Homo sapiens: one gene and its partners. The protein of the gene in region 4 interacts with the protein of the main gene of each other region in a biochemical or structural test. Each region holds a gene or a part of one and is shown on either strand. Other genes may lie near its edges. The genes, in order: ING4, ORC2, HAP1, KAT7, CDC6, H4C6 and CDK11B.

Region 1 (4,849 bases), on a different chromosome or scaffold from region 4:
ATGCTTCTGTAAGTGTGAACGGTATAGAGATCCCATTGTCAATTACTGCTTTTTTTTCTTTCCTCTTTCTTTTTTCTTTCTCTTTTTAAGGACTTCTCATATAGCAAACCTCCCATCTACCAACATATGTTGCAGTCTAAAGTCACACTGGGAATTTGTGACAGTAACATTAACAATGAGAGAAGTAGAAACATTCTAGTCATCCTATAAATATATCAAACGTGGAGAGCAGAAATGACTCGAGTTGACTTTCTTTAATTCTTCTTTTTTTTTTTTTTTGAGACAGAGTCTTGCTCTGTTGCCTAGGCTGGAGTGCAGTGACATGTGGCATGATTTGGGCTCACTACAACCTCCACCTCCCAGGTTCAAACGATTCTCACGTCTCAGCCTCCCAAGTAGCTGGGATTACTGGTGCGTGCCACCACACCTGGCTAGTTTTTGTATTTTTAGTAGAGATGGGGTTTCACCATGTGGCCAGGCTGATCTCAAACTCCTGGCCTCAAGTTACCTGCCCGCCTAGGCCTCCCAAAGTGCTGGGATTACAGGTGTGAGCCAGCCTGGCTAATTATTCTCCAGGAAGACATAAAGAACACAGCATCTTTGAATTCTTGAGGCGTTTTCACAATACTCTATTTGTTATGAAAAAGCTGACACAGAAATGAGGATCATTATCCTGTTTTAAGAATTCCAAGAGCGTAAAAAAGGAGCGAGAGAAGCCACAGTTCTCCAGATCATACCAGATGATACGGTAACATCAAGTAGAAAAATAAATGATTACACACACTCATTAGATACAAAAACTTTTTACTCTATACATACCCTCTGTTCTTTGGTCTAGGTCCCTCATGAGCTGAAAGTTTCTCTGTAATTCAAAGGGAAGGTTTTCAATACCTAGGGAAGAGAGAGAAACAATCACAGGACTGACTATGCATAGGCCTTACAGCTCCTTTTAAAGTGCAGTTCAGGCCGGACATGGTGGCTCACGCCTGCAATCCCAGCACTTTGGGAGGCCAAGGGGGTGGATCACTCAAGGCCAGGAGTTCAAGACCAGCCTGGCCAACATGGCGAGACCTCCATCTCTATTAAAAATATGAAAATTAGCCTAGTGTGACGGTGGGCATCTCTAATCCCAGCTACTTGGGAGGCTGAGGCATGAGAATCACTTGAATCCAGGAGGCAGAGGTTGCAGTGAGCCGTGATTGAGCCACTGCACTCCAGCCTGGGCAATAGAGCAAGTCCCTGTCTCAAAAACAAACAAATGGCCAGGCATGGTGGCTCACACCTGTAATCCCAGCACTTTGGGAGGCCGAGGAGAGCAGATCACGAGGTCAGGAGATTGAGACCATCCTGGCTAACATGGTGAAACCCCGTCTCTACTAAAAATACAAAAAATTAGCCAGGTGCGATGGCGGGCGCCTGTACTCCCAGCTACTCAGGAGGCTGAGGCAGGAGAATGGCATGAACCTGGGAGGCGGAGTTTGCAGTGAGCCGAGATCGCACCACTGCACTCCAGCCTGGGCGACACAGTGAGACTCCATCTCAAACAAACAAACAAACAAACAAAAAATAAAGTGCAGCTCAGTTTTCCTTCCTCTGAACCTCTGGATTTATCTGTGACAGGATGGATCAGTTCTCTCATGACAGGCCATGCTTAACTCTTTCTCTACAAAACCTTTCCATTTCTGCATGGCTATCCCACCCTTTTCGCCTTCAGTGACCTTCCTTTATAAATAAGCTCTTCCCGTCAGGTGTGGTGGCTCAAGCCTGTAATCCCAGCACTTTGGGAGGTTGAGGCGGGTGGATCACGAGGTCAGGAGTTCGAGACCAGCCTGGCCAACATGGTGAAAGCCTGTTTCTACTAAAAATATAAAAATTAGCCAGGTGTGGTGGCACGTACCTGTAATCCCAGCTATTCAGGAGGCTGAGGCAGGAGAATCACTTGAACCTGGGAGGCAGAGGTTGCAGTGAGCCAAGACTGCACTACTGCACTCCAGCCTGGTGACAGAGCGAGACTCTGTCTCCAAAAAAAAAAAAAAAAGCTCTTCCCTTTCTTTTCCTTTTTTGTTTTTTGAGACGGAGTCTGGCTCTGTTGCCCAGGCTGGAGTGCAGTGGCACGATCTTGGCTCACTGCAGCCTCCACCTCCTGGGTTCAAGTGATTCTCCTGCCTCAGCCTCTGGAGTAGCTGGGACCACAGGCGCGCGCCACCACACCCGACTAATTTTTGTATTTTTAGTAGACACAGGGTTTCACCATTTTGGCCAGACTGGTCTTGAACTCCTGGCCTCAGGTGATCCGCCCGCCTTGATCTCCCAAAGTGCTGGGATTACTGGCATGAGCCACTAAGACGGGCCCCTTTCTTTTATTTTCCATCTCTGCCTCCAAGCTCTTTGTCCTCAAATTACAAATAGTCTCCTGGTATCCTCTATTATACACATAACACTTCCAATCTACTTCCATATAGTAGCCAGAATGTCCTTTTTAAAAAATGCAAACCTGGCCAGGCACGGTGGCTCATGCCTGTAATCCCAGCACTTTGGGAGGCCCAGGTGGGCGCATCAGCTGAGCTGAGGAGTTCAAGACCAGCCTGGGCAACATGGTGAAACTCTGTCTCTACCAAAAATACAAAAACTTAGCCAGGCTTGGTGCACATGCCTGTAATCCCAGCTACTTGGGAGGCTGGGGCACAAAAATCCCTTGAACCTGGGAGGTGGACATTTCAGTGAGCCGAGATCACGCCAATGCACTCCAGCCTGGATGACAGAGCAAGACACTGACTCAAAAAAACAAAAACAAAAACAAACACAAAAATAAAAAATGCAAACCTAATCAAGTCACTCTCCCGCTTATAACCTTCTGGTCACTTCCTACTGCTCTGAAGATGTTCTGCGCTTTCTGGCCCTTGCTTACCTCACACCAGCCTGAACTCATGTCAGTCTCCCTTTGTGCTCTGCTTTGCCCATACTGGCCTCCTCGCACTGCCTCAAACTGGCCTGTGCTCCTCCTGCCATTTGGCTTTCCACATGCTGTTCTCTCTAGTTGGAATGCACCGCTCGCTTTTCCTCATCCCATCCACCCCATCCCTCTTGGCCTATTAAATTCCTGTTCGTTCTTCCAAAGTTCAGCTCAAACTCAACTTTCCCAGACTCTGTTAACTGCCCTCGATCTATGTCAAGGTATTCTAGCCACCTTTTTAAAGCACTTATCCAACTGTAATTAAATAAATGTGTAATTAGTTGGCTGGGTGCGGTGGCCCATGCCTGTAATCCAGCACTCTGGAAGGCAGGTGGATCACTCAAGGCCAGGAGTTCAAGACCAGCCTTGGCAGCCTGGCAAAACCCCATCTCTACTAAAAATACAAAAATTAGGGCCAGGCACGGTGGCTCATGCCTGTAATTCTAGCACTTTGGGAGGCCGAGGCGGGTGGCTCACTTGAAGCCAGGAGTTCAAGACCAGCCTGGCCAACATGGTGAAACCTGTAATCCCAGATACTTGGGAGGCTGAGGCACAAGAATTGCTTAAATCCGGGAGGTGGAGGTTGCAGTGAGCTGAGATCGCACCACTGCACTTCAGCCTGGGTGACAGAGTGCGACTCCATCTCAAAAACAAAACAAAACAAAAATTAGGCCAGGCGCGGTGGCTCACACCTGTAATCCCGGCACTTTGGGTGGCCGAGGAGAGCAGATTACGAGGTCAGGAGATTGAGACCATCCTGGCTAACATGGTGAAACCCCGTCTCTACTAAAAATACAAAAAAATTAGCTGGCCGTGGTGGCGGGCGCCTGTAGTCCCAGCTACTCGGGAGGCTGAGGCAGGAGAGTGGCGTGCATCCAGGAGGTGGAGCTTTCAGTGAGCCGAGATCGCTCCACTGCACTCCAGCCTGGGCGACAGAGCGAGACTCTGTCTCAAAAAAAAAAAAAAAAAATAGATGGGCATGGTGGCCTGTGGCTGTAGTTCCAGTTACTCAAGAGACTGAGGCAGGACAATTGCTTGAACCAGGGAGGTAGAGGTTGCAGCCCGGGCAAAAGAGCAAGACTGTTTCAAAAAACAAAAAAATTAAAAAAAATAATGTGTAATTAGTTATTTGGTATCTGTCTCCCCAGGCCGAACATGGCTATCATATTCTCTCCTGTTTCCATAGTGTTTAGAATTATGACTTGCAAAGAGCAGGTACTCAGTAAATACTTGAATAAATGCATGAATATTTGTCACCCCAGTACAAGAGAAATCTCTTGCCAAGACTCCACCTAAAACTTTAAAAATGCCTCTACTTGCTGGGCACAGTGGCTCACGCCTGTAATCCCAGCATTCTGGGAGGCCAAGGCAGGTAGATCGCTTGATCTCAGGAGTCTGAGACCAGCCTGGGCAATATGGCCAGATCCTGTCTCTATAAAAATTAAATATATATATAAAAAATAAAAGGCCTGGTACGGTGGCTCATGCCTGTAATCCCAGCACTCTGGGAGGCCAAGGTGGGTGGATCACCTGAGGTTGGGAGTTTGAGACCAGCCTGGCCAACACAGTGAAACCTCATCTCTACTAAAAATACAAAAATTAGCTGGGTATGGTGGCGGGCACTGTAATCCTAGCTACTCAAGAGGCTGAGGCAGGAGAATCACTTGAACCCGGGAGGCAGAGGTTGCAGTGGGCCAAGATCGCACCATTGCGCTCCAGCCTGGGTGACAGAGTGAGACTCTGTCTCAAAAACAAACAAACAAACAGAAAAACTAAAATAAAATAAATAAAAAAAAATAAAATGCCTCTACTGTTTAAACCTACAACTTCAGGTCTGCTACCACCAGTTCACAAGACTGAGTCACTGGTGATTTACCAAATCTAATGGTGTTATTA
Region 2 (4,849 bases), on a different chromosome or scaffold from region 4:
AGCTACTCAGGAGGCTTAGGTGGGAGGATCACCTGAGCCCAGGGAGGCTAAGGTTGCAGTGAGCCTTGATTGTGCCACTGCACTCCAGCCTAGGTGACAGAGTGAGACCCTGTCTCAAAAAAAAAAAAAAAAAAAAAGGCAATACTGTTCAACCAGCTGATCTCCAACAAACTTACATTCAAAGACTCAAGTCCTACATCAAAATCAATCACTACTGCATTAGTTACACTAATAAAAAGTTACAAACAATCCAAAAGTATAATATAGAAAACCACACATTATTTATATATTAGAATGCAATACTACTAGCTATTACAGTTCTTTTTGTCCGAAGACTGACCTCTGAGAATTTAACGATATGTTAAATTTAAAAGAAAATAAAACCACCGCCTCATATCCATTAAAAGGGCTACTGTTTTTTTTTTTTTTTAAAAAAGGAAATAGGTGTTGGTAAGAACGTGGAGAAATTGGAACCCTTGTACACTGTAGGTTGATATGTAAAATGGTGCAGCCACTGTGCAAAAAGTATGGTGGTTCCTTAAAAAATTAAAAATAGAATTAGCACATGATCCAGCATTTCCACTTATGGGTATAAACCCCAAAGAATTGAATGCAGGGTCACAAAGAGGTATTTGTACACCCATGTTCATAGCAGCATCATTCGCAATACCCAAAAGGTTGAAGCAACCCAAGTGTCCATCTACAGATGAATAAATTTCAGTTTTGTACAATGAGAAAAGTTTGGGAGATTGGTTACAAATGGTGTGAATGTACCTAATGCCACTGAACCCATACACTTTAAAAATGGTTCAGATGCTAAGCTTTTTTGTGTGTGTATGAGATAAATTCTTGCTCTGTCACCCATGCTAGTGTGCAATGGTGTGATTGTGGCTCACTGCAGCCTCAACCTCCTGGGCTCCAGTGATCCTCCCACTTCAGCCTTCTGAGCAGCTAGGACTACAGGTGCATGCCACCACGCCCAGCTAATTTTTGTATGTTTTTTGTAGAGATGGGATTTGGGATTTCTTTCTTTCTTTTTCTTTTTTTTTTTTTGAGATGGATTTTCACTCTTGTTGCCCAGGCTGAAGTGCAATGGTGTGACCTTGGCTCATTGCAACCTCCATCTCCCGGGTTCAAGCGATTTTCCTGCCTCAGCCTCCCGAGTAGCTGAGATTACAGGCACCCACCACCACGCCCAGCTAATTTTTTGTATTTTTAGTAGAGACACGGTTTCGCCATGTTGGCCAGGCTGGTCTTGAATTCCCGTCCTCAGGCGATCCACCCGCCTTGGCCTCCCAAAGTGCTGAGATTACAGGCATGAGCCACTGCACCTGGCCAAAACTAAGTCTTTAGGAAAATGTAACTATGATTAAATAGTGTAATCTGTATAAACTTTAGGAGGATATTTGGCAATACATGTCAAAACTCTTATTGTAGAAGAATGTCTAATGACAGAGTAATGTATATATGATACATTATTAATTGCAAAAAGTCTATTTATAAACGTAATGGTGCAAGCTTATGTGTGCCCATGCATGTATGAACAGACAGAAGATACACACTGAAATGTTAACGGTTCCACGTTCTCTAAAGCAGGCATTCTTGACAGGTACAATACATCTCCCAATTGGGTAAAACTGGATCTTGGCACAGGAGGGAGTGTGGAAAAAAGACTTTGACATTATTAATATAATAGTCTGTGGCCCTCCAAAGCGTCACAGTACATAAACAGATATACAGCATATATGTAGTACTGAAATTTTTAGGGTGGGAAAAAGTGATTAGGAGAAAATGTCTAAAAAGGCTAATTAGGGGTCAATAATTTTAAAAAGGTTGAAAAACATAGGGCATGATGCCAAAAAATAAGGCAAAGTTCCCCAGTGTGAGGAATGAATGAATGAATGAATGAATAAATAAATAAATAAATAAATAAATAAATAAATGGTATGGGTTTCATATGTGCTGAGTACTGATTCTCTCAGGCCTTTGAGGATGCCAATCAAGGCCAGTAGCAGGGGTAGGGTTAGGGCCCTGGGGTATTTGTCCTTGGTCTGCAGCATCCTCTTCTATTTATTCCATTGTGCCTCCAAATATCATTTGCTGTGAGTGCTGTTATGTGAGAAAGGTTGGAAGCACTGAATTTCTACAACAAACATACTACTTTTTTAAGAGACAATTTTTATGATAAAAGTTTCCTTTGTGGAATACTGTTATCAATCTCTTCTTAGGCCTGGCATAATAGGGAGTCAAGAACACCAAGTTTTATTTAGAATATGCTCAAAAAATGTCAACTGTCTAGCTGTGGACACATAGGAGACCCTACCCAGCCCACTAAATCTATTGAGGAGCAGTGGTCATTTTTTGTATAACTCTATACATGGAGTATATGACTCTACCCCCATAGTTAATGAACTATGTAATTATGTTCATTAATATAATAAGTAATAGGCACAGATAACTCAACTGTGATTCATCTGTGGATATTCCAATTATATGCTATTTCTATGTCCAGATTTTAAAAATGAATTGAGCTAAATTGACTCTTGAGAATCTAGAATGGGAGAACTGAAAAACCAAATCACTTAACACTGGGAACTTGATGGACATTTATAAGTATGTGAGAATAAAACACATGTACATGAAGAAAATATGTGGCATAGAGAAATCAGAACAGATGCACAGAGATGACACAGGGAGACCTGGAGACTCATGAAAGCACAGTTCCTCAGTTTTTAACACTGTCCCAGTTCCAACTCTCCTAGTACCCAACAATATTGATTTCTTTCCTTTGTCATTATTTTTTTAAGCTAGGTTGTGGGGATCTGTGTTCCTTGTACCCAGGAAAAACCTAACTAAAATATAATTCGAACCTAAAAAAATGTTTTATGTTAAGAATAATCTTGCAGGAATCTGGCTTAGATGTAAAAATTAAAACCACACACATAATACCAGCATCCCTGGGTTAGAACACTACTTCTTGAAATGCTCCTCCTAGTTCTGTAAAGATCAAGGTAAGAATAAAGTAACTTGCTTTAGAAAGGTATTTTAAATAAGTTAAAAATATAAATATCTTTTTTTTGTTCTGTTTTGACCTAGGGTCTCGCTTTGTCACCCAGGCTGAGTATAGTGATGCAATCACAGCTCACTGTAGCCTCAACCTCCTGGGCTCAAGCAATCCTCTGCGTTAGCCTCCCAAGTAACTAGGACTACAGGCACACGCCACCATGCTCAGCTAGTTTTATTTTTTTTTTGAGACAGGGTCTCACTCTGTTGCCCAGGCTGGAGTGTAGTGGTATGATCACGGCTCACTGCTGCCTCAACCTCCCAGGCTCAAGTGATCCTCCCACCTCAGCCTCACTCATAGCTGGGACCACAGGTGTGTGCCACCATGCCAGGCTAGTCTCAAACTCCTGGACTCAAGCGATCAATCTGCTTTGGTCTCCCAATATGCTGAGATTACAGGCATGAGCCATCACACACCCAGCTTCCAGCTAATTAAAAACTTTTTTTTTTTGTAGAAACGGGATCTTACTATGTTGCCTAGGATGGTTACAAACTCCTGGGCTCAAGCAGTCCTCCTGCCTCAGTCTCCCAATGTACTGGGATCACAGGCGTGAGCCACCATGTCTGGCCATAAATAAATACCTTAAAAATAGTACTAGCTACTCAGGTGGCTAAGTTGGGAGGATCTCCTGAACCCAGAAGTTGGAGGCTACAATGAGCTATGATTGTGCCATGGCATCCCAATCTGGGTGACTGAGCAAGACCCTGTCTCTAAAATAAATAAATAAATAAATAAATAATCTTGAAAATAACTTTAGGAGTACTATGCAGCCATAAAAGGAATGAGATCATGTCCTTTGCAGGGACATGTATGAAGCTAGAAGTCATCATCCTCAGCAAACTAACACAGGAACAGAAAACCACACACTGCATATTCTCACTCATAGGTGGGAGTTGAAAAATGAGAACACATGGACACAGGGAGGGGAACAACATATGCCACAGCCTGCGGGTGGGTGGAGGGAGGGAGAGCATAAGGACAGACAGCTAATGCATGTGGGGCTTAAAACCTAGATGATGGGTTGAAAGGTGCAGCAAACCACCATGGCACATGTATACCTATGTAACAAGCCTGCACATTGTACACATGTATCCTGGAAAAATTTTAAAAATAAAATAACTTTAGAGTGGTTGGTCTATAGATTCCTTCTTACTGAAAACTATGTGCAGGACTGGTTGTTAAAAAAAAGAACTATGGAGAAATTGAAGCAAATGCTTTTTAGATGAGAAACATGATCATATAGAACACCACTGTTTAACCTACCAGACTACTTTTGTGTATCCTATAAAGCAATTTCTGCTACTAGCAGAAACGAGTGTATATTTCACCCCCTCAAATACCTTGAACATCTCTTCCCATAATTTCCACATAGTTCTGATCTTTTAAGACCTCCTGGTCATCTTCCTCCAAATCATATTCTGGCTTCTTTATTATTTTTTTGGGGTTGACCAAAAGCTGCGCTCGCTCCTTCTTCAATTTAGCTCCTATAAGAACATCCAAAGAAATAGAGCATGACAGGTATAAATTCTTTCTAAACATTACATTTAAATAAGAAATTATAATATTTATATTGTCATTACTTAAAAGCTGGGAAAAAAGCTTTCTCTTTGATTAAAACTGACCACTCTGACCACTCTTCCACAGTTTATATAGTTAAAAAAAAAAACACACACAATCTTGAAAGTATATATTTTTAGGGTTCAAAATAACCACATATTTTAAATTACAATGGGTAGTTATTAGTGACTACCACTCCTGGGCATTTTGTTTTATATTAGGCTTTAC
Region 3 (4,849 bases), 8.1 Mb from region 4:
CTGCAACCTCCACCTCCCGAGTTTAAGCGATTCTCCTGCCTCAGCCTCCCGAGTAGCTGGGATTACAGGCATGCGCCACCATGCACAGCTAATTTTGGTATTTTTAGTAGAGATGGGGTTTCACCATGTTGGGCAAGCTGGTGTTGAAATCCTGACCTCAAGCGATCCATCCCCCTCAGCCTCCCAAAGCGCTGAGATTACAGGCATGAGCCACTGTGCCTGTCCCAAGACCTCATTTCTTAAAAAACAAGTAGCCGGGTGCAGTGGCTCACCCCTGTAATCCCAGCACTTTGGGAGGCAGAGGCAGGTGGATCTCTTGAGGTCAGGAGTTTGAGACCAGCCTGGCCAACATGGTGAAACCCCGTCTCTACTAAAAATACAAAAATTAACTGGGCGTGGTGGCGCATGCCTGTAATCCCAAGTACTCGGGAGGCTGAGGCAGGAAAATCGCTTGGACTCGGGCGGCAGTTACAGTGAGCCAAGATTGCACTATTGCACTCCTGCCTGGACGACAGAGATTCGGTCTCAAATAAATAAATAAATAAACCAACAAACCCAAGTCTGACCACGTCATTACTGTGCCTAAAACTCCCAAATAGCTTTCCATTGGCCAAAGGATAAACCCCACCCCCTTGCCCACTACTGTGGTCTGGCCTGTGTGCACTGTTCTGGGCCCTCCCCGTCCCAGTGTCTTATGATGGCCTCTGGGCCTTTCCAGTCAGCTTGGACCCATGTTTTTCCTTCTTTGCCTGGGTGAGCTTCACTTGCCCTGTGGTCTTAGCTTAGTGGTTCCTTTTTCCAGGAATCCTTCCTTACCTTGCAGGTCGGGTTGGGTGCTGTAGCTGTGATGCCCCTGCCCTGTACACCCTTGACATTTGCCCATCATGGCCTGTATGATGTGTGACTGTGGTCTGTCTCCCCACCAACTTTACCTCAGTGTGGCGGCTGGGTCTTACTGACCACTCACCCTGGTGCCCTGCTCAGTATCAGTCAATGAACATTTCTTGAATGGAAGACCTGAGTGAGGAATGCAAAGCCCTGCAGGACCCACTGGCACAGCGCAGCAGCCGAGGGTGGGGGAGACAGAGGCATCTGGGAGGGCCAGAGCTGGTCCCTGAAGGCCAGGGGAGCCAGGGCTGACCTGTCCTCTGCCCTCCCCAGCGGAGGCCAGCCAACAGATGGCTGAGCTGTCGGAGGTGCTGGTGCTCAGGCTGGAAAACTATGAACGGCAGCAGCAGGAGGTCGCTCGGCTGCAGGCCCAGGTGCTGAAGCTGCAGCAGCGCTGCCGGATGGTGAGTCGGGTGTGTGTGGAACCCTCTTGTCGTGGCCCCATGGGACCCTAGCTTCCTTCTTCCTGCCTCCACTCGGCTCCACCAGGCCTGAGGTCCCTTTCTGTGTCAGAGTCAGAGACCTCAGAGAGCCCCTTATCTTGACCCCTTGTTATCTTGAGGAGACCAAGGCCCAGAGAGGGTCCTGGAGTCTTCTAGGAACCAGGCTGCGTGACTCCCCTGCCTTCTTTGCCCTCCTTCCGTGTGACTTGTCATTTCATGGGCTGCCAAGGACTCACTGATGTGCCTGGGAAGACTTGCTGGAAGCAGGGGGTGCCCTGAGTGGGTAGGCCTCAGATGGGGGTTCACTGGTTTTGGGTCCTTCCAGTATGGGGCTGAGACTGAAAAGTTGCAGAAGCAGCTGGCTTCGGAGAAGGAAATCCAGATGCAGCTCCAGGAAGAGGTGAGTCTCGCTGCCGGCTTCTGCCCCCACCCTGGAGAGCCGCTGGCCCAGAGTGGGGACCCCAGGCCCTTGGCAGCTACCTGACTCTGGAGAGGACTAGCAGGAACTGAGTCTTGTCCGTTTCCACCCCCTCCATGCCTGGCACAGCCCAGCAGGTGACAGTTCCATCAAGGTCTGAGTGGTGTGGAGTGCAGGGACCTGCCCTGGGTCCCCCACATGACACTTGGAGTCCAGAACCTGGGCCTCTGGCCTCAGCCTGAGAGCAGATAGGCAGGAGTGCTGGACTGGGTGTGCCTGGGTCCCAGCAGAGCGTGTGGGTGGGTTCCCAGCTGCAGGACCTGCGGGAGAAGTACATGGATTGTGGGGGCATGCTGATTGAGATGCAGGAGGAGGTGAAGACCCTCCGCCAGCAACCCCCAGTGTCCACTGGGTCTGCCACCCATTACCCATACAGCGTGCCTCTGGTGAGGACCCTCCCCTGGCTGCCCACTTTCCTACGTCTGTGCCTGTGTCTCAGCCTTGGTGGCTGATTGAGATCCCAGTTCCCTTCTGTGCCTGAGCCTATGGGTGGGGGTTCTGTGGGGGTCCTCTGGTAACGTCTGTTCTCTCCACCATAGGAGACTCTTCCTGGTTTCCAGGAGACGCTGGCTGAGGAGCTCAGAACGTCTCTAAGGAGGATGATCTCAGACCCTGTGTATTTTATGGAGAGGTGCGTGGCTGGGGCCCTCCCTTGCCCCATAGGCCATGGCCTTTCCTGTAGTGGGGAGGGGGTTTGCCCTCACACTCTGACCTTCCACGCTTCCCTATACCCGCCTCGTTCACTGCATCAGCCCCTCCACTCATTGCTTCTCTATGAATATGGACCCATCACTTCCCCCTGAGGTATTTTTTTTTTTTTTGAGATGGAGTCTTGCTCTGTCACCCAAGCTGGAGTGCAATGGTATGATCTTGGCTCACTGCAACCTCTGCCTCCCAGGTTCAAGCAATTCTCCTGCTTCAGCCTTCCGAGTAGCTGGGATTACAGGCATGTGCCATCACGCCCGGCTACTTTTTGTATTTTTAGTAGAGACACAGTTTCACCCTGTTGGCCAGGCTGGTCTCAAGCTCCTGACCTCAGGTGATCTGCCCGCCTCAGCCTCCCAAAGTGCTGGGATTACAGGCGTGAGCCATCATGCCCAGCCTGAGGTTTTTTTTTTTTTTTGAGACGAGTCTCACTCTGTCACCTGGACTGGAGTGCAGTGGCGAGATCTTGGCTCACTGCAACCTCCATCTCCTGGGTTCAAGCGAGTCTCCTGCCTCAGCCTTCCAAGTAGTTGGGACTACAGGCACGAGCCTGGCTAATTTTTTTTTTGTTTTTTGAGATGGAGTCTTGTTTTGTTGTCCAGGTTGGCGTGATCTCGGCTTACTGCAACCTCCGCCTCCTGGGTTCAAGCGATTCTCCTACCTCAGCCTCCTGAGTAGCTGGGACTACAGGTGGCCATCACCACGCCCGGCTAATTTTTGTATTTTTAGTAGAGATGGGCCAGTAGAGATGTTGGCCAGGCTAGTCTTGAACTCCTGACCTTGTGATCCACCCGCCTGGGCCTCTCAAAGTGTTGGGATTATAGGCGTGAGCCACTGCACCTGGCCAAGCCCAGCTAATTTTTGTAGTTTTAGTAGAGACGGGGTTTTACCATGTTGGCTAGGCTGGTCTTGAACTCCTGACCTCAGGTGACCTGCCCACCTCGGCCTCCCAAAGTGCTGGGATTACAGGCGTGAGCCACTGCTCATGGCCACTACCTAAGGTTCTTCAGCTTGACCAAGCCCCAGGGACTGCAGTTTCGGCTTCCATTGTCTCATAATGAAGGTCCTTTTCTCTTTGAAGGAATTATGAGATGCCCAGAGGGGACACATCCAGCCTAAGGTAAGCCTGCCAGGGGCTCCCCTACAACCTGCCCTCAGCTTTCAGCAGCCAGACAGCCCACCTGCCTCTGGTTCTGCCACCCTGCAACTCCGGAGAAGGCCCTGCTATCTCGGCTGGCTGAACTGAGAACTGTTCTGGGAAGGAGCTGCCCCACTTTTCCTTCAAATCTTGCCCCCTGGGTGGCCGTCTGATTCCAGGCAGCTCTGAGTGGGGACTGAAGCTTTCTTTTCAACTGACTATGGGCTGAGAGGTGACAGGCACTGGCTTAGGAGCTGGGAACACCTGGGACTAAGGCCCAGCGTGGTCCCTTTCCTGACTGTGTGTCCTTGGGCAAGTCATTTGACCTGTCTGAGCCTGTCTAGAATGGATTTGTTCCTATGGCAAGTAGCTGTGGGGTGGGCTATGAAGGTTAAATCATGCAGGAGGGAGGCAGAAGTGGGTGTTAACCCTGTTGGTGTATTCCGTGCAGGGTCAGGGACATAAAAGAAGATGGGGCCTATGCAGTGTTGGTGACCATTCTTCCTCCCTCCCACCAGGGGGATGGGCTGGGTATTTGAAGCCTTGGAGCTGGTACCTAGCTCCCCTCTCCCCTGGCTGGGACAGAACCAGGAGGAACCATCAGGATCTGTGTGGAGACGGGTGGGGGTGGGCCTGGGGGGTTGGACTTTCCAGCCCCTCAAAAGATGTCGCTATCTCCCGCCCAGGTATGATTTTCGCTACAGTGAGGATCGAGAGCAGGTGCGGGGGTTTGAGGCTGAGGAAGGGTTGATGCTGGCAGCGGATATCATGCGGGGGGAAGATTTCACGCCTGCGGAGGAGTTCGTGCCCCAGGAGGAGCTGGGGGCTGCCAAGAAGGTGCCGGCTGAGGAAGGGGTGATGGAAGAGGCAGAGCTGGTGTCAGAGGAGACCGAGGGCTGGGAGGAGGTGGAACTGGAGCTGGATGAGGCAACGCGGATGAACGTGGTGACATCAGCCCTGGAGGCCAGCGGCTTGGGCCCTTCACACCTGGACATGAATTATGTCCTCCAGCAGCTGGCCAACTGGCAAGATGCCCATTACAGGCGGCAGCTGAGGTGGAAGATGCTCCAGAAAGGTGAGTGCCCCCACGGGGCCCTCCCTGCCGCCAGCCGGACAAGCTGCAGATCGTCGTGCCGATGAAAAGAGAGGGTGGATAAGCTCCCCGAGTGCTCACCTGCCCCAGCCTGGCTCTACCTG
Region 4 (3,500 bases):
TAAATTAGGTATTTCCTGAAATCTGATTTTTATATCATATAATATGGAAGATTTTCAAATATTCAGAATGTTTATTTGATTCTCAGATTTATTCAGACTCTTTGTTTTCTCCTTCTATTACTATTTCTTGCCCTTTTGGCTATTTCATTGGTTTGTGTCACTCAACAACCAGAAACGAAAAGGAAAAAAGGCATAAATGGTAAGCAGTTCACATCAATAAAAATACCCGCTTTCACACAGTAAAACCATTTTACTTTATCTCCACGGCCTGCCATCTGTATCAGTGCCCCACCTTCTGACCCCATTATTTCCTGTGCACTGATATTTCTACCAATCGCCGCCAATCACCTCCCCTCCATGACTCTAGCCCTATGCAGTCAAGTGTGCCAGGGTCTGGAGAACCTGAGTCAAAGCAACAGTTCTGGGCCCTGAACTTACAGACCACATGCTCCTGAACTGGGAACATAAAAAAGCAGTTATCACCAACCAAACTGGGGAGAAGAGTATAATGACAGAAATCACAGGAAACCTGGGTCATAGATGCTCAACATATGGAAATCCTGGGAAATAAAAAAGGAAGGGGAAGGAAAAAGAGACACCCCAGAGGCCTTAGAGCCAAATTATATTGTGATTATGAGAACAAGGGCTGGGCACAGTGGCTCATGCCTGTAATCCCAGCACTTTGGGAAGCTGAGGTGGGTGGATCATGAGGTCAGGAGATCAAGACCATCCTGGTCAATATGGTGAAACCCTGTCTCTACTAAAAATACAAAAATCAGCCAGGTGTGGTGGTGTGCGACTGTAGTCCCAGGTACTCAGGAGGCTGAGGCAGGAGAATCGTTTGAATCTGGGAGGCGGAGGTTGCAGTGAGCCAAGATCGCGCCACTGCACTCCAGCCTGGTCAACAGAGCAAGACTCCCTCTCAAAAAAAAAAAAAACAAGAAAAAGTCTTCTCTGCCTGAAAGGCTAATCTCTACTCCTTCCCCTGTTCCGCACCCTTGCTCCATGGCAGAAATTCCCCTTAAGACAAAGCTTATTCTGTAACAGAGCGGGGGAAAAATGGCTTTTTTTTTGAAGCTGCAAAAAATCTAGTAAACCTATTTGTCAACAATAACAGATTCAACTCCTTATACCTGTTTTATTAGGAAAAAGAGGGGAAGGCACCAAAGGACCCACTCTGCTACTTTCATAATCTGTCACAGGCTGATCACTATTAAATATTAATAAGTACCCATTCAACATATACTTCTTGGGCATCAGTTGTCCACACTAGTTGCTAGGGATATGAAGGTGAGCCATGCTGTCTCTGCTGTGCCTAATGAAGTCTGTATTTTCATCTAGTTTGGGACACACAAAACCTGTGGGCAGAGGTAATTCATATTCCAAGGAGGAAATGAAGAGCAGTAGGCAGCAAGAACAAAAGACAAGAAGATGTACATGACAGGATGTGGGTAAGGGCCCTCAGCTGCTTTGGGTGGCACCCAGCACAAGCCATACCTCAGGCTCTATACCCCGCCTTAAGCTGTGGCCTGTCATTTCCTATGCCTTCATCCCACTGCTGAGGACCACTGAGAAGGTGCCTGAACAGATGCCATCGCTATGGCAAAATCTAGAGATCCTACAGCTTATTGCCATCATGGTCAAGGCAGAGGAACCCAAGACAACTCACCATGTGCCGGCGGAGTATCGTTTGGCTCTTCATATATTTTAAACAGAATTCACACATATAGAGACGTCCCAGCCGTGCATATTCTTCAGGATATGGAGAATGATACCAGGTATCAAGCTCATAGCGGCCAAAAGCAATTGTTTTAATCATGTTGCTTCCCTCTGTGATTTGGCCTTGCAGCCTTAACTTCTCCTATTGCCAAGAAATCAAAAGTCAAAGGAGGATCAGAATTTATTATCTTTGCTTTTAGACAGGGCACAGTGGCTCCTGTAATCCCAACACTTTGGGAGGCTGAGGCAGGCAGGTCACTTAAGGCCAGGAGTTCGAGACCAGCCTGGCCGAAATGGCAAAACCCCATCTCTACTAAAAATACAACAATTAGCAAGGTGTGGTGGCAAACAATTGTAATCCCAGCTACTTGGGAGGCTAAGGCAGAAGAATCGCCCAAGAGGCAGAGGCTGCGGTGAACCGAGATCGCACTACTGCACTCCAGCCTGGGAGACAGAGCGAAACTCCTTTTTAAAAAAATAAATATTATCTTTGTTTTTAAAAGTGTGTGTGCATGCCACCACGCTAGGCTATGAAAAAAATCAGACAGATTTGGCTTCTATCCATGAGAATTTACACTAAAGAGAGCTACATGAAAAATCACACAGGTGTACAGAAAACTTACTACCCATACTGCCCAGAGCACAGGTCTCAAAAGAGAGGTTTCTCTGCTACCTCCCACATTCTGGGCCTCACCAGAATGATACCTTGGAAACTTCATTTTTATCAGCCTAGACCAAACTGAATTATAAAGAAAATCATCACAGATACAAACTCCCCACCCTTATAAAGTATTCTAAAACTAAACAAAAAACTTGATTTAGAATCTGCCTTACTTATCTGCAGAAGCTTTTATAAAGCTATATGAATCTCCGTGAAATATATCCACAATGGTCACTTAGAAAAAAAAACAGGCCCTTTAAAAAATATTTTTGAAATGTGCATGATAATTCTAGAATCTAAACTCTAGAAGGCAGAAAATATTTCTGGGATGGGTGTAGTGGCATGCCTGTAGTCCCAGCTACTCAGGAGGCTGACGTGGGAGAATCGCTTGAGCACTGAAGGTCGAGGCTGCAGTGAGCCATGATGGCACCACTGCACTCCAGTTTGGGCAACAGGGCAAAACCCTGTCTCAGAAAAAAAAAAAATTCGGATATCCATCTCCATTCAGTGGCTCTGAGTTGGCTACAAAAGTATAATTTGTAAGCATAACCAGGTGTAAAGTTGTAAAAGGCTAGCCCAGGAAATGCTCCATGCCAGAATAGGATAGAGAAAACCAGCAGCAGTAACAGCCCATCCCAGCCAAGGGTAGCCAGCAAACCCTGCCTCTGCCAAGTTTTCAACAAGTCTAGTATTTGATACAATTTTTTTTTAATACAAGGGGGAAGGGGGTGAAGACGAGATTCACTTTAAAACTGAGCTTCCCTGAACACATTTAATCTGTTATATCAGAGGTAAACTCAATCACCAGAATTTTCTTCAAGCAAAGTTGTTAAAAATTCTGCCTAGGACAGCAACTCAGTATAAACTAGCTCTAAATAAATATCAGAATGGAAAACCAATGTATCAAACTTGGCTGTGTCAAAGATTAATTCTAAAACATCTGACAACAGCCTTTTCCATTATTCCTCTTCACTGTTATTTTCATTCTTAGTGCAGAGGAAACCTAGCAAAAGGGGAGTTCCTGTTGGGATTAAGAAAACAACAGAGATGAGTCTCTCCTAGGCTACAGGTTCTCAGAATTGCAAATTGCCCAGCTGAGACAAAGGGGCGCCTATGGTTT
Region 5 (4,849 bases), 9.5 Mb from region 4:
GAATTCTATCTGTGAGATCCAGGGTATTAGCAATACCTAAGGAGGAGATCAACAACATTGATCATTGGTCAAATTATCCTAAAGGGAAAACTAAATCTTCTGAAAGCTAAATAAATCTCCAGTTATAGAATCTAGCATTCTAATTGTTGCTTGCCACTTGTCTCCTACCCCATCCCAATAGATAAGATGTATCTATTAGGTAAGATGTACATAGTCATTTAACTTTCTTATTTTGACACGGCAGAAAGCTGGTTTAAGATAAAATAGCTGATAAATAAGCTGAATATATATTCTTAAAAAATACTTTAGAACCACCATGTAACATTAACAATTGAGCACTAACCAATCAGCACCAAGTGAGAATTGCTTAGCCATGGCCATTCAAATAGCGTGTACAATACATCCTGGCCTTTGCTGTCCAGTTGATCCATCTCGTCCAATACCAACACACTATAAAAAGAGAAACAGTTAGTATCCATATTCACCTTCTTAACCCTCTAATGTTTGATATAGGCTGACTTCAGGTCACTTTCCTAAAGCTGAGACCAGTTTAAAGATCATAATCTAACCTATCTCTAGTTACTGCTACAAGGATACCCCACATCATCTATAAGTAATCCAATTTAAAATTAGGTGTATCTTCCTTCTCTTCTTTCCCTTTAAGTTTATGTAACTATCCTTCAGAGAGAAAATATACAAAATGTACTTTTTATGGGCAACAGACCTTGCAGATTTTCACAGAGCAACATGAAGCAGAACAATACTTACATCATGGGGCCCTTCTCTGCAGTCATATGTTTTTCCAATTTCCTCATCATGTCCTTCCCAGCTGGCCTGGATACCTCTTCCTGACAAATCTCCTGAGCAATAGCTGGGAATACAGCCTGGGCAGTCCTCAAGGACATGCAATTCAGCATGATAGTTTTAAAGCCTTTCAGTTCCTTCTGGAAAAAAAAATGCAAATATGGGAGTTATTTTGGCCTCAGAAAATAAAGATCTGATAGAGCCTAAAATGTCTTTGAAGAGCTAACAGCACGTAAGGAAGCTCTACTTTCATTTGGAAAGATTTAAACAATGAAATTACAAATGTTTTATTTTGAAGAAACCCTCAATCTTCTAAACTTCTACTCTTTCTTTTCTTTCTTTCTTTTTTTTTTCTTTGAGACGGAGTCTCACTCTGTTGCCCAGGCTGAAATGCAATGCCACAATCTCAACTCATTGCAACCTCTGCCTCCCGGGTTGAAGTGATTCTCCTGCCTCAGCCTCCCAAGTAGCTGGGATTACAAGGATGCACCACCACACCCAGCTAATTTTTATATTTTTAGTAGAGATGGGGTTTCGCCACATTGGCCAGGCTGGTCTTGAACTCCTGACCTCAGGTGATCCACCTGCCTCAGCCTCCCAAAGTGTTGGAATTACAGGTGTGAGCCACCGCACCAGGCCTACTCTTTCTTAACTCTTTTTTTTTTTGAGACGGAGTCTTGCTCTGTCGCCCATGCTGGAGTGCAGTGGCGCGATCTCGGCTCACTGCAAGCTCCACCTGTGGGTTCACGCCATTCTCCTGCCTCAGCCTCCCGAGTAGCTGGAACTACAGGCACTCGCCACCACGCCTGGCTAATTTTTTTTGTATTTTTAGTAGAGACGGGGTTTCACTGTGTTAGTCAGGATGGTCTCAATCTCCTAACCTCATGATCCGCCCGCCTCGGCCTCCCAAAGTGCTGGGATTATAGGCGTGAGCCACCATGCCCAGCCTTCTTTTTCTTTTGAGACAGAGTCTCACTCTGTCACCCAGGCTGGAGTACAGTAGCGCGATCTCAGCTCACTGCAACCTCTGCTTCCCGAGTTCAAGTGATCCTCCTGCCTCAGCCTCCCGAGTAGCTGGGATTATAGGCACCTGCCACCATGCCCGGCTAATTTTTTTTTGTATTATTAGTAGAGACAGGGTTTCACCATGTTGACCAGGGTGGTCTCAAACTCCTGACCTTAGGTGATCCACCCACCTCAGCCTCCCAAAGTGCTGGGATTACAGGTGTGAGCCACCGTGCCTAGCCCTCTTTCTTAACTAAGTGCCAGCCAGGCACAGTGGCTTACACCTGTAATCCCAGCACTTTGGGAGGCTGAAGCAGGCAGATTACTTGAGCTCAGGAGTTCAGGACAAGTCTGGGCAACATGGTGAAACCCTGTCTCTACAAAAAATTAGCTGGGTGTAGTGGTGAGTGCCAGTATTCCCAGCTATCCAGGAGGCCGAGGTGGGAGGATCACCTGAGCCCAAGAGGTCAAGGCTGCAGTGAGCTGAGATCACAACACTGCACTCCAGCCTGGACAACAGAGACCCTGTTTCAAAAACAAAACAGGCCAGGTGCGGTGGCTCACACCTGTAATCCCAACACTTTGGGAGGCCAACAAGGGCGGACCATGAGGTGAGGAGATCGAGACCATCCTGGCTAACACAGTGACACCCCGTCTCTACTAAAAATACAAAAAACATTAGCTGGGCATGGTGGCGGGCGCCTGTAGTCCCAGCTACTCGGGAGGCTGAGGCAGGAGAATGGCGTGAACCTGGGAGGCAGAGCTTGCAGTGAGCCGAGATCGCGCCACTGCACTACAGCCTAGGCGACAGAGCGAGACTCCGTCTCAAAAAACAAAACAAAACAAAACAAAACAAACAAACAAACAAAAACACCCAAGTATCATTTTACCAAGAGTATCATAATTCAGACTCTCAATGTACCTTGAGGTCTTGCAGAATCCGGCTTAAGCAGGCAGTTTTTCCAGTTCCAGGAGCACCAGAAAGGTAAAGGCTTCCAGCTTTTTTCCCACAGATGTGTTCCCTCAAGAAATTCCTGATGACATCCATCTCCCTTTCCCTGGCAGGCAGCCGATCTGGGACAGCTGTGTTCAGGACCAGCTTTGCTTGCTGGTAGCAAGTGCCTGTGCCAGACATAAAAGGTCAATTAGACACAACAGAAGGTGAATGAGAAGACCCAGTGGGTGGTTTCATTTGGAGTCATCAGCCTTGGTTACAATGGCTGCACTAACAGTTGCCATGTAAGAACAAACCTTCTTGCTTGAATAGTCTCACACATGCAGATTCTTTCTTCAGTGGACATCTCTGCTCAGAATTTGTTGTGATCTCTTGACTTTTTCTAACTGAAGAAAGTATTTTGTTTTGGTGAACTTTGGCTAGTTCTCTTTTGCTAGGAGACTTAATTGTCAGCTGATTGTCAAATACCAATCTTCGTCCCTTAAGTGTATGTGAGTGAGGGGGACCATTCTCTTTCTTGCCTTGCTTTGGTGGAGAACAAGGAGGTAAATGGGGAGTGTTGCATAGGTTGTCATCGCCTGAAACACAATAAAATAAAAATGTAGTCACTCATAGCATTGGATAGTAAAAGGATGTGCAAGACCTCTGCCTCTTCCAGAAAGAGGTGAATTTCTACCTTAGTCAGAACCACCAAAATAAAATGCCTTCTCACTTAGCAGCAAATATTGGTCACCAGATGGCACCACTGATCTTACTACAGTAGTCCCTTCATCCACCGTTCTAGTTACCCTCAGTCTGAAAATACTAAATGGAAAATTCCAGAAATAAACAATTGACAAGTTTTAAATTGCATGCTGTGGAGTGCCATGATGAAATCCCGCACCATCCTACCCAAGACATGAATCATCCCTTCAGCCAGCATATCCACACTGTATATGCTATCCACCCACTAGTCACTTAGTAGCTGACTTGGTTATCAAATCAAAAACACAGTATATGTAGGGTTTGGTACTGTCCTCGATTGCAGGCGTCCACTGGGGGTCTTGGAATGTATCCCCCATGGATAAGTGGGGACTACTGCATTTAGTAGAAACCAAATGGGTTTTAGTAGGATGAAATTGTAAGGCTATTTTGAAACAGGTTTTCTCAACCTTGGCACCACTGACATCTTGGACCAAATAATTCTTCATTGTCAAGGAGCTGTCCTGTGCATTGTAATGTCTAGCAGCATCCCTGGCCTCTACCCACTATGCCAGTAGCAACCCCCAGCTGTAACAACCAAAAATGTCTCCAGAAACAACCAAATTACCCCCCATTTAAAAATAAATGTTCCAAAACAAGAAAGAATTACCAATCACTGTCCTAAAGGATGGAAAATATTCATCATGTCACGTTTTTGTTTCTTTTAATTTCACAAATATTGAGGTAAGTTTCATAATACCATGTAACTACAAGGTAACTTAAAACATTGACAGAACTAAGTTCAGTATTAAGGAATTGAAGATCAGACTTATTAAGTAGTTCAGAGTGACCTCAGTAAGTGTCTAACTCTGGAGTTCGGTAAGCACTTAGCAACCATTCTGAAAATAACTAAAATGAAGAGTAGTCTTAGGCCAGGAGCGGTAGCTCATGCCTATAATCCCAGCACTTTGGGAGGCCGAGGCAGTTGGATCACCTGAGGTCAGGAGTTCAGAGACCAGATTGGCCAATATGGCAAAACCCTGTCTCAACTAAAAATCCAAAAAAAAAAAAAAAAAAAATTAGCCAGGCTTGGTGGTGGGCGCCTGTAATCCCAGCTACTTGGGAGGCTGAGGCAGGAGAATCGCTTGAACCCAGGAGGCGGAGGTTGCAGTGAGCCAAGATCGCACTATTGCACTCCAGCCTGGGAGATGGAGCGAGACTCTGTCTCAAAAAAAAAAAAAAAAAAAAAAAGAAGTCTTAACTGAACTTAGAAAGCTCCTTCAAAGGACACACATCTTACCAAGAAAAGAAAGGTCACGAGCTGCTAGTGAAAAAGTGATATAATGGATGGTTTACCCAGACGTTTCCTGGGGCTGAGAGGCAGGGCTTTTACACGAGGAGAAC
Region 6 (3,399 bases), on a different chromosome or scaffold from region 4:
ACATTTATGAACTAAATACTACATCCTGAGGATACTAAATTAAAGACATTGTTCAAGACCTGAAAATATCTTGGGAAGAGGGCAAGAATTACTCCCAACTATTTAAGTGTGCAGTAGCTCCTAAGTCGTATAGGGAATTCTGAAGTAGGGCTAGGGACATGTGTAGAGTGTGCTTCGTGAATTGTAAGGAAACCCCAGACACCGATTTTGCCCATAGGAATCAGGTAAAGGCTTCTTGAAGAGGAAACCCCAAGTTGAAGAATATTTGTGGAACAGTGTATGTAATGAATTACCATTGACAAAAAAAGAACAGATGAGAAGCCACTTCTTCGGTATGGTGAAAAAATGAAAACGTTAGGAGTCAGGATCGCGGGTGATAACCGGGTAGGTTGACAAAGCACAAGGAGAAACACTTTGGGTTATAAATTACCAGTACTTGAGAAATAAAGCAGTAAAATTATCAATGACCTGAAATCACAGTAAGTGCCCCAACAAAGAATTCACTGGGTAAGACAAAAACTTGGGCTTTTTTTTTTCTTTTTGAGACGGAGCCTTGTTCTGTGCCCCAGGCCTGGAGTGCAGTGGCGCGACCTCGGCTCACTGCAACCTCAGTCTCCCGGGTTCAAGTGATTCTCCTGCCTCAGCCTCCCGAGTAGCTGGGACTACAGGCGCGTGTCACCACGTCTACGTCTAATTTTTGTATTTTTAGTAGAGACGAGGTTTTGCAGTGCTAGCCAGGCTGGTCTCGAACTCGTTGAGCTCAAGTGATCCACCCACCTCGGCCTCCCAAGCTGCTGGAATTACAGATGGGATTGCAGACATGAGCCACCGAGCCCGGCCAAACTTTACTTTTTTTTTTTTTTTTTTGAGGCATGGTCTCTGTCGCCCAGGCAGGAGTGGAGTGGCACCATCTCAGCTCACTGAAATCTCCGCCTCCCGTGCTCAAGCGATTCTCCTGCCTCAGCCCTTGCAGATTAGCTGCGACAGCAGGCGTCCGCCACAACGCCGGGCTAACTTTCCTATTTAACTTTTTTAGTTGAGACGGAGTTTCACCATTTTGGTTGCCCAGGCTAGTCTCGAACTCCTGAGCTCTAGTAATCCGCCCGCCGTGGTCTCCCAAGGTGCTGTGATTCAGGCCTGAGGCACCGCGCCCGGACACAAGTAGTGGATTAAGTTTACCAGTAATTGATCTGTCCACAGCCGCCCTAAGATTACTCACGTTCTATGCCTAATAAATAACACTAAGGCCGGGCACGGTGGCTCACGCCTGCAATCCCTGCACTTTGGGAGGCCAAGAAGGGCGGATCACCTGAGGTCGGGAGTTCGAGACCAGCCAGACCAACACAGAAAAGCCCCTTCTGTACTAAAAATAAAAAATTAGCCAAGCGTGGTGGCGCATGCCTGTAACCCCAGTTACTCGGGAGGTTGAGTCAGGAGAACCGCTTAAACCCGGGAGGGGGTGGTTGCGGTGAGCCGAGATTGCGTCATTGCACTACAGCCTGGACAAGAGCAACTCCATCTCAAAAACTAAACATGTAATGCTAGTGTAGTTAAGTCCCAGCCACCTAACATAGGAGTAAATTTCAGAAACGTGGGAATAAAACACATCACATACGTCATAAAAGGCTGCTGGTATTCCCAAACCATTTCCACCATCTTTTCCTGTGAATGTTTGCGATCGAAATACCTGAACAAGTTTCTAATGTTTCGCCTTCCCTTTCTCCTTAGCACATCCGCCATCTTAGGAAGATCGCTAAAAACGGCTCGGTTTAACTCAGTTAGAATCCCAAATTTACAAAACGAAACCCAAGTCGTCATCAGTTACAGCCCTTCGTGTGACGAAGGAGGTGGCCCTGAAAAGGGCCTTTTATGGGTGAGCTGTTAAATAAAAAGCCGGGGTGAGGCTCAGCCACCAAAGCCGTACAGAGTGCGTCCCTGGCGCTTGAGCGCGTAGACAACATCCATTGCAGTGACTGTCTTACGCTTGGCGTGCTCCGTGTAGGTTACGGCGTCCCGTATCACATTCTCCAGGAACACCTTAAGAACACCGCGGGTCTCCTCATAAATGAGGCCCGAAATGCGTTTCACGCCGCCGCGTCGGGCCAAGCGACGGATGGCGGGCTTCGTGATGCCCTGTATGTTGTCACGCAGCACTTTGCGATGGCGCTTGGCGCCTCCCTTTCCTAAACCTTTACCACCTTTGCCTCTACCAGACATGATCGAAGACAAACAACAACTCTTAACTTTTGCAACTTTGCTACACACTGAAGCCCCTTATATATCAATTATGCGGACCTTTTTGGAGACTGAATTGGAGGGGCGGGAACGAAACCTCTGTCTCCGCCTTTTCCGTAACTTACTGGGCGTCCCCTACACTATTGCCTTGGGAAGGAAAGGGGGCGGTGAGGGTAGGGGAAATGCAAGTTGATTTGACTCCTTCCTGTTTCCTTGTTTGGGTCTTGAGTGTAGGTTTCTGTGTCTTCTAGTCCAGTGCCTGTGGGCTCTCGAACTGATAATGTCTGTCTCCTAAAATCCTTATTATTTGCAAAAAGGAGGCAGTAACGCTACACTTGTCTACCGAATGGATAGACAAGAGAATAAAATTATTATTTCTTTTGAAACAGTTTTGCTCTGCCCCAGACTGGAGTGCAGTGGCGTGATCTCGGCTCACTGCAACCTCCGCCTCTCGGGTTCGAGCGATTCTTCTGCCTCAGCCCCTGCAGTAGCTGCAACTACAGGCGCGCGTCACCACGCCCGGCTAATTTTTGTATTTTTAGTAGAGATGGGGTTTCGCCATGTTGACTAGGCTGGTCTCGAACTCCTGACCTCAGGTGATCCACCCGCCTCGGCCTCCCAAAGTTCTGGGATTACAGGCGCCTAGCTTTAATTTTTAAATGTGAAGATTCTTTGAAAATGTATTTTTACTAATTTTTTTTTTTTGATACGGGGTCTCACTCTGTTGCCCAGGCTGGAGTGCAGTGGCGCTATCTCGGCTCACTGCAACCTCCGCCTTCTGGGTTCAAGCGATTCTCATGCCTCAGCCTCACGAGTAGCTGTGATTTCAGGCACGCGTCGCCACACCTGGGTAATTTTTGTATTTTCTTAGTAAAGACGGGGTTTCGCCATGTTGGCCAGGGTGGTCTCGAACTCCTGACTTCAGGTGATCCACCCACCTTGGCCTCACAAAGTGCTGGGATTACTGGCGTGAGCCACCACGCCCGGCCATTTTTATTAATTCTTAAAATGTAGCAATACTTCTTAAATTTGGCCAATCATGAGACTTAGCGTTTGGCAGAGACATATACATTCACATCGTTTTTGGCATTCCTAATAAAGAAAGACCTCTAGTAAGGGAAACCAATATTAATTGAAGTTTCATTCTTAGTTTTTCAATGTATA
Region 7 (3,860 bases), on a different chromosome or scaffold from region 4:
AGTAGCTGGGATTACAGGCGTGCGCCCTGTACTCCCAGCTAATTTTTGTATTTTTAGTAGAGACGAGGGTTTCACCATGTTAGCCAGGATGGTCTCAATCTCCTGACCTCGTGATCCGCCTGCCTCCGCTTTTCAAAGTGCTGGGTTTACAGGCCCGAGCCACCGTGCCCAGCTGCCATTTCCAATTCTAATTAATAAATGATCCATTTCTTTCCATTCGATCGGTGTTTGCTTCATGGATTTTGGGCTCTGTGGTTAGATGCATTCACACGTATCATTGCTGTATCTTCCTGCTGTATTGGCCTGTTTCTGGCTGTGAAGTCCTTGCTCCTTCTTGTTTCTAGCTTTTTTTTGAGACAGGGTCTTGGTTTGTCACCCAGGCTGGAGTGCAGTGGCGCAATCTCGGCTCACTGCAACCTCCATCTCACGAGTTCAAGTGATTCTCATACCTGAGCCTCCCGAGTAGCTGGGATTACAGGTGTGCGCCACCACACCCAGGTGATTTTTGTAGAGACAGGGTTTCACCATGTTGGCCAGGCTGGTTTCTAATATTTCTTAACATCTGTTTTGTCTGGTATGAGTACAGCCATTCAAGCTCTCCTATGACAGCTGATGTTTGTACGCTGCGTCTTTTCCTGTTCTCTAGCAGACAGCATACAGTTAGATCTTGTTTTTCTATCTGATAATCTGCCCTGTCTGTTTGGGGCACAGAGACCTTTCACATGTCATATAATTACACGTACAGTTGGATTTACTTTCCTTGCTTTGTTGTGTCTTTTTTATTCTTCCCTTTTTGATTTTAAATTACATATGTTTAGCATACCATTTTAATTTATTTGTACTTTTTAAAACACTAAGAAAACAACTTTCTTAGTGGTTGCTCTAGGGATCACCGTATGCCTCATGATACTAGCTCAAGTCCAGTACAATATAAAACTGTTGTAACACAGCTTTATTCCCTGTCTTCTTTGTGCAGTCCATTTATGCCACATACCATGACAACAGTGTAATTATTTTATACAATCGTAGTTCCAGTAAAACCTAAGATGTGAGGAGAGATAGTTACAGGATATTGACGTCAACCTACACTTGCTATCTGCAGTGCCTGTCCTTCCTTCCTGAGGATTCAAGTTACCGTCTGGTGTCATTTCTATTCAACTTGAAGGTCTTCCTTTAGTATTTCCTTTAAGGCAGGTTTCGCCAACAATGAATCCCACCAGTCTCTGCTTCTCAGGGAATGTCGTTCGTTCCCTTTCACTTGTGTAGAACGGTTTTGATTCCTGGCTGATGGTTCTTCTCTCTGAGCAGCTTGAGTATGCCACTCCACTGCCTTCTGGCCTCCATTGTTTCTAAGAAGTCAGTGGCTGGCGGTATTGAAGCTCCCCTTTCATGGGATGGGTCATTCTTCTCTGAGGCCTTTCAACATTTTCTCTTTGGCCTTTGCCAGTTTGACTATGATGTGACTTTGCATTTATTCTAGTTCAAACTTCCTGTGCTCTTGAATGTGCATATTTTTTAATTAAAATTTGGAAAGTTTTTAACCATTATTGTAACAAATATCTTTCCTCTCTCCTGGAACCCCCATTCGACGTGCTTTGGTACAGCAGATGTTGTACCACGGGTTTCTGAGGCTCTGTGCATTTTTCTTGTTTTTTTCTCTCTGTTCTTCAGAATGGATAATTTCTACTGCTCCATCCACAAGTTGTTTCCAAGCCTTTACTAAATTCAACATCTGGACACTCAGACAGTTTTTACTGATGATGTTCTTCCTCAGTATGGGTCACACTGTCATACTTCTTTGTATTTTAGATAATACATTTGTAGCAATTCTGGATTCTAAGTTTTCCCTTTCGTTGTTACCACCGAGGCCTGTCTGGTTGTCCGTGAAATCCATCTCCCTCACAGCTCGTGGCCACCCCGTTCCTTCCCACATGCCTATTTTAATTTTCAACCTTGGCTTCCTAGGGGTCACCACCATGGCTGCACAGCTTAGCAATTAGCCAGCACTGGAAAAAGGCTGGGCTCAAATACCTCGAGCACAGTAAGGCTTCCTTGGCCCACGGCTGTGTGTGGACAGGGAGCACACTGAACGTTCACGCGTCATTCGCATCTGTGGCGGCTTCTATTTTCTGCCAGGTCCTTTCACGCAGCTGCATCCTCAGGGCTGGTCACAAGTGGGTGGCGGCTCGAGCTCTCTCCAGTCTCTGCTGCACGTCTTTGGCGAGATCACAGCTGCTCCCAACCACACTGTACTTCATTCTAGCAGACCTCTTGGCCTTTTCTTCCTCCCTCCACTGAGGATGCTGGTGGGCAAGGCCACTGCCCACTGCTCTAAACGGAGTAACCCCTTCCAAGGCAGCAAGGAAACTGCAGGTCCTGCAGCTGCCCTGTCCCAGTGGAACCTCCGTGCTTCCCAAGTGCAGAGTGGAAGCAGTAAAGGGAGCAGCTCTCAGGCCAGAAGGTCAGATTCTTACTGCTTTCACCCACAGCTCAGCAGTTTTCCAAGCATCAGTGCTTCTCAGATTATCCTTATCAGTTTCCTTTTTGTCAGAGACAAGGTCTCCCTACGTTGCCCAGGCTGGCGTCATGCGGTCCTCTGGCCTTAGCCTCCCACGTAGCATATGCTACCATACCCAGTTCTGGATTGGCTGATCTGAATCGGCCCTACCCAGAAGTCTGCCCCCAACAATTTTTGCTCATTCACTCTCCTGTCTTTACCTTCTGGGAAATCAATATGACAGCCCAAATTTCATCTACCAACCTCCACTTCTATCCCAAGCTGTACTCTCGTGGGACAAGACACACTCAATGTCTGGCACAGGGTGTGGCATACATGAATGTTTCACACACTAACAGGAACTAGGCCAACTGAAACCTTGCTCACCCCGCAGCGGTCTCGGACCTTGACCCCTGGGCCTCAGTGTCTCCCACACCCTTCGGCATCAACAAGAACCAGCGCCCTCTCATCATCTTTACATGCTGTGTACCCAGCCCTGGCTGCTGGCAAACATCGCTGCCCTTCCGCTTCAGACTCCTCTCTTCCTGGAGCAGCTTGCAAGCTTTCTGTGGACTCACTCTGAAGGCGGAGATGGGCCTGCTCCCACCTGGCCTACAGCCTTTTTCCTGGTTCACGGAACAGATCTGGGGCTACACCGATGTTCTTTCTTGGGAATCTGGCTCATAAAGGGGAACGAATATATAAACTAATGGCCAGGAGTCCTGGGAGTCCAGGGTCCCGAATTCCAGACTGTTTCAAGGTTTTTAGGATCTCCCTTCTCCTTTTTTTGAGACAGTCTCACTCTGTCAACCAGGCTGGAGTGCAATAGCATGGTCATAGCTTACTGCAGCCTTGACCTCCAGGCTCAAGGGATCCAACCACCTCAGCCTCCTAAAGTGCTAGGATTACAGGCATGAGCCACCGCGCCCGGCCGGACATGCAGATTTCTGATCCCTTCATTGTCTTCCCTCAATCAAATCACACCCGTTCTTACTTCCAGATGCAGTGAAAACTCACTCCCTCAGGACAGTTCTCTTGGTCAGCCTCGTCCAGCGTTCACTGTGCTGTTTCCATGTCTACCACTTCTGCACCAAATGTGACTTCTTCTTTTTTTTTTGAGACGGAGTCTCGCTCTGTCGCCCAGGCTGGAGTGCAGTGGCGGGATCTCAGCTCAATGCAAGCTCCACCTTCCGGGTTCACGCCATTCTCCTGCCTCAGCCTCCCAAGTAGCTGGGACTACAGGTGCCCGCCACCATGCCCAGCTAATTTTTTGTATTTTTTTAGTAGAGACGGGGTTTCACCATGTCAGCCAGGATGGTCTCCATCTCCTCACCTCATGATCCGCCCACCTCGGCCTCCCAAA

What was found.
Region 1: the proteins of KAT7 (region 4) and ING4 form a complex in vitro, tested with the Homo sapiens proteins (one study listed by BioGRID).
Region 2: of the proteins of KAT7 (region 4) and ORC2, one has a biochemical effect on the other in vitro, tested with the Homo sapiens proteins (one study listed by BioGRID).
Region 3: the proteins of KAT7 (region 4) and HAP1 form a complex in vitro, tested with the Homo sapiens proteins (one study listed by BioGRID).
Region 5: of the proteins of KAT7 (region 4) and CDC6, one has a biochemical effect on the other in vitro, tested with the Homo sapiens proteins (one study listed by BioGRID).
Region 6: of the proteins of KAT7 (region 4) and H4C6, one has a biochemical effect on the other in vitro, tested with the Homo sapiens proteins (one study listed by BioGRID).
Region 7: the proteins of KAT7 (region 4) and CDK11B form a complex in vitro, tested with the Homo sapiens proteins (one study listed by BioGRID and IntAct).

What each region holds. Positions count from the first base shown.
Region 1 is NC_000012.12:6,655,908-6,660,756, forward strand, and holds part of ING4 (inhibitor of growth protein 4), read right to left. Parts: intron 893-4,849; exon of another isoform or gene 892-892; coding exon 820-891; intron 7-819; exon of another isoform or gene 1-6.
Region 2 is NC_000002.12:200,952,997-200,957,845, forward strand, and holds part of ORC2 (origin recognition complex subunit 2), read right to left. Parts: intron 4,549-4,849; coding exon 4,405-4,548; intron 1-4,404. UniProt on the Homo sapiens protein: Component of the origin recognition complex (ORC) that binds origins of replication. DNA-binding is ATP-dependent. The specific DNA sequences that define origins of replication have not been identified yet.
Region 3 is NC_000017.11:41,724,644-41,729,492, reverse strand, and holds part of HAP1 (huntingtin-associated protein 1), read left to right. Parts: intron 1-1,161; coding exon 1,162-1,292; intron 1,293-1,560; coding exon of another isoform or gene 1,561-1,656; coding exon 1,657-1,731; intron 1,732-2,060; coding exon of another isoform or gene 2,061-2,195; intron 2,196-2,348; coding exon 2,349-2,440; intron 2,441-3,595; coding exon 3,596-3,634; intron 3,635-4,338; coding exon 4,339-4,792; 3' UTR 4,793-4,849. UniProt on the Homo sapiens protein: Originally identified as neuronal protein that specifically associates with HTT/huntingtin and the binding is enhanced by an expanded polyglutamine repeat within HTT possibly affecting HAP1 interaction properties.
Region 4 is NC_000017.11:49,816,181-49,819,680, reverse strand, and holds part of KAT7 (histone acetyltransferase KAT7), read right to left. Parts: intron 1,862-3,500; coding exon 1,670-1,861; intron 1-1,669. UniProt on the Homo sapiens protein: Catalytic subunit of histone acetyltransferase HBO1 complexes, which specifically mediate acetylation of histone H3 at 'Lys-14' (H3K14ac), thereby regulating various processes, such as gene transcription, protein ubiquitination, immune regulation, stem cell pluripotent and self-renewal maintenance and embryonic development.
Region 5 is NC_000017.11:40,289,551-40,294,399, reverse strand, and holds part of CDC6 (cell division control protein 6 homolog), read right to left. Parts: coding exon 4,802-4,849; intron 3,343-4,801; coding exon 3,061-3,342; intron 2,932-3,060; coding exon 2,732-2,931; intron 945-2,731; coding exon 769-944; intron 451-768; coding exon 344-450; intron 37-343; coding exon 1-36. UniProt on the Homo sapiens protein: Involved in the initiation of DNA replication. Also participates in checkpoint controls that ensure DNA replication is completed before mitosis is initiated.
Region 6 is NC_000006.12:26,239,244-26,242,642, reverse strand, and holds H4C6 (histone H4), read right to left. Parts: upstream 2,251-3,399; 5' UTR 2,218-2,250; coding exon 1,906-2,217; 3' UTR 1,850-1,905; downstream 1-1,849. UniProt on the Homo sapiens protein: Core component of nucleosome. Nucleosomes wrap and compact DNA into chromatin, limiting DNA accessibility to the cellular machineries which require DNA as a template.
Region 7 is NC_000001.11:1,645,504-1,649,363, forward strand, and holds part of CDK11B (cyclin-dependent kinase 11B), read right to left. Parts: intron 1-3,860. UniProt on the Homo sapiens protein: Plays multiple roles in cell cycle progression, cytokinesis and apoptosis. Involved in pre-mRNA splicing in a kinase activity-dependent manner. Isoform 7 may act as a negative regulator of normal cell cycle progression.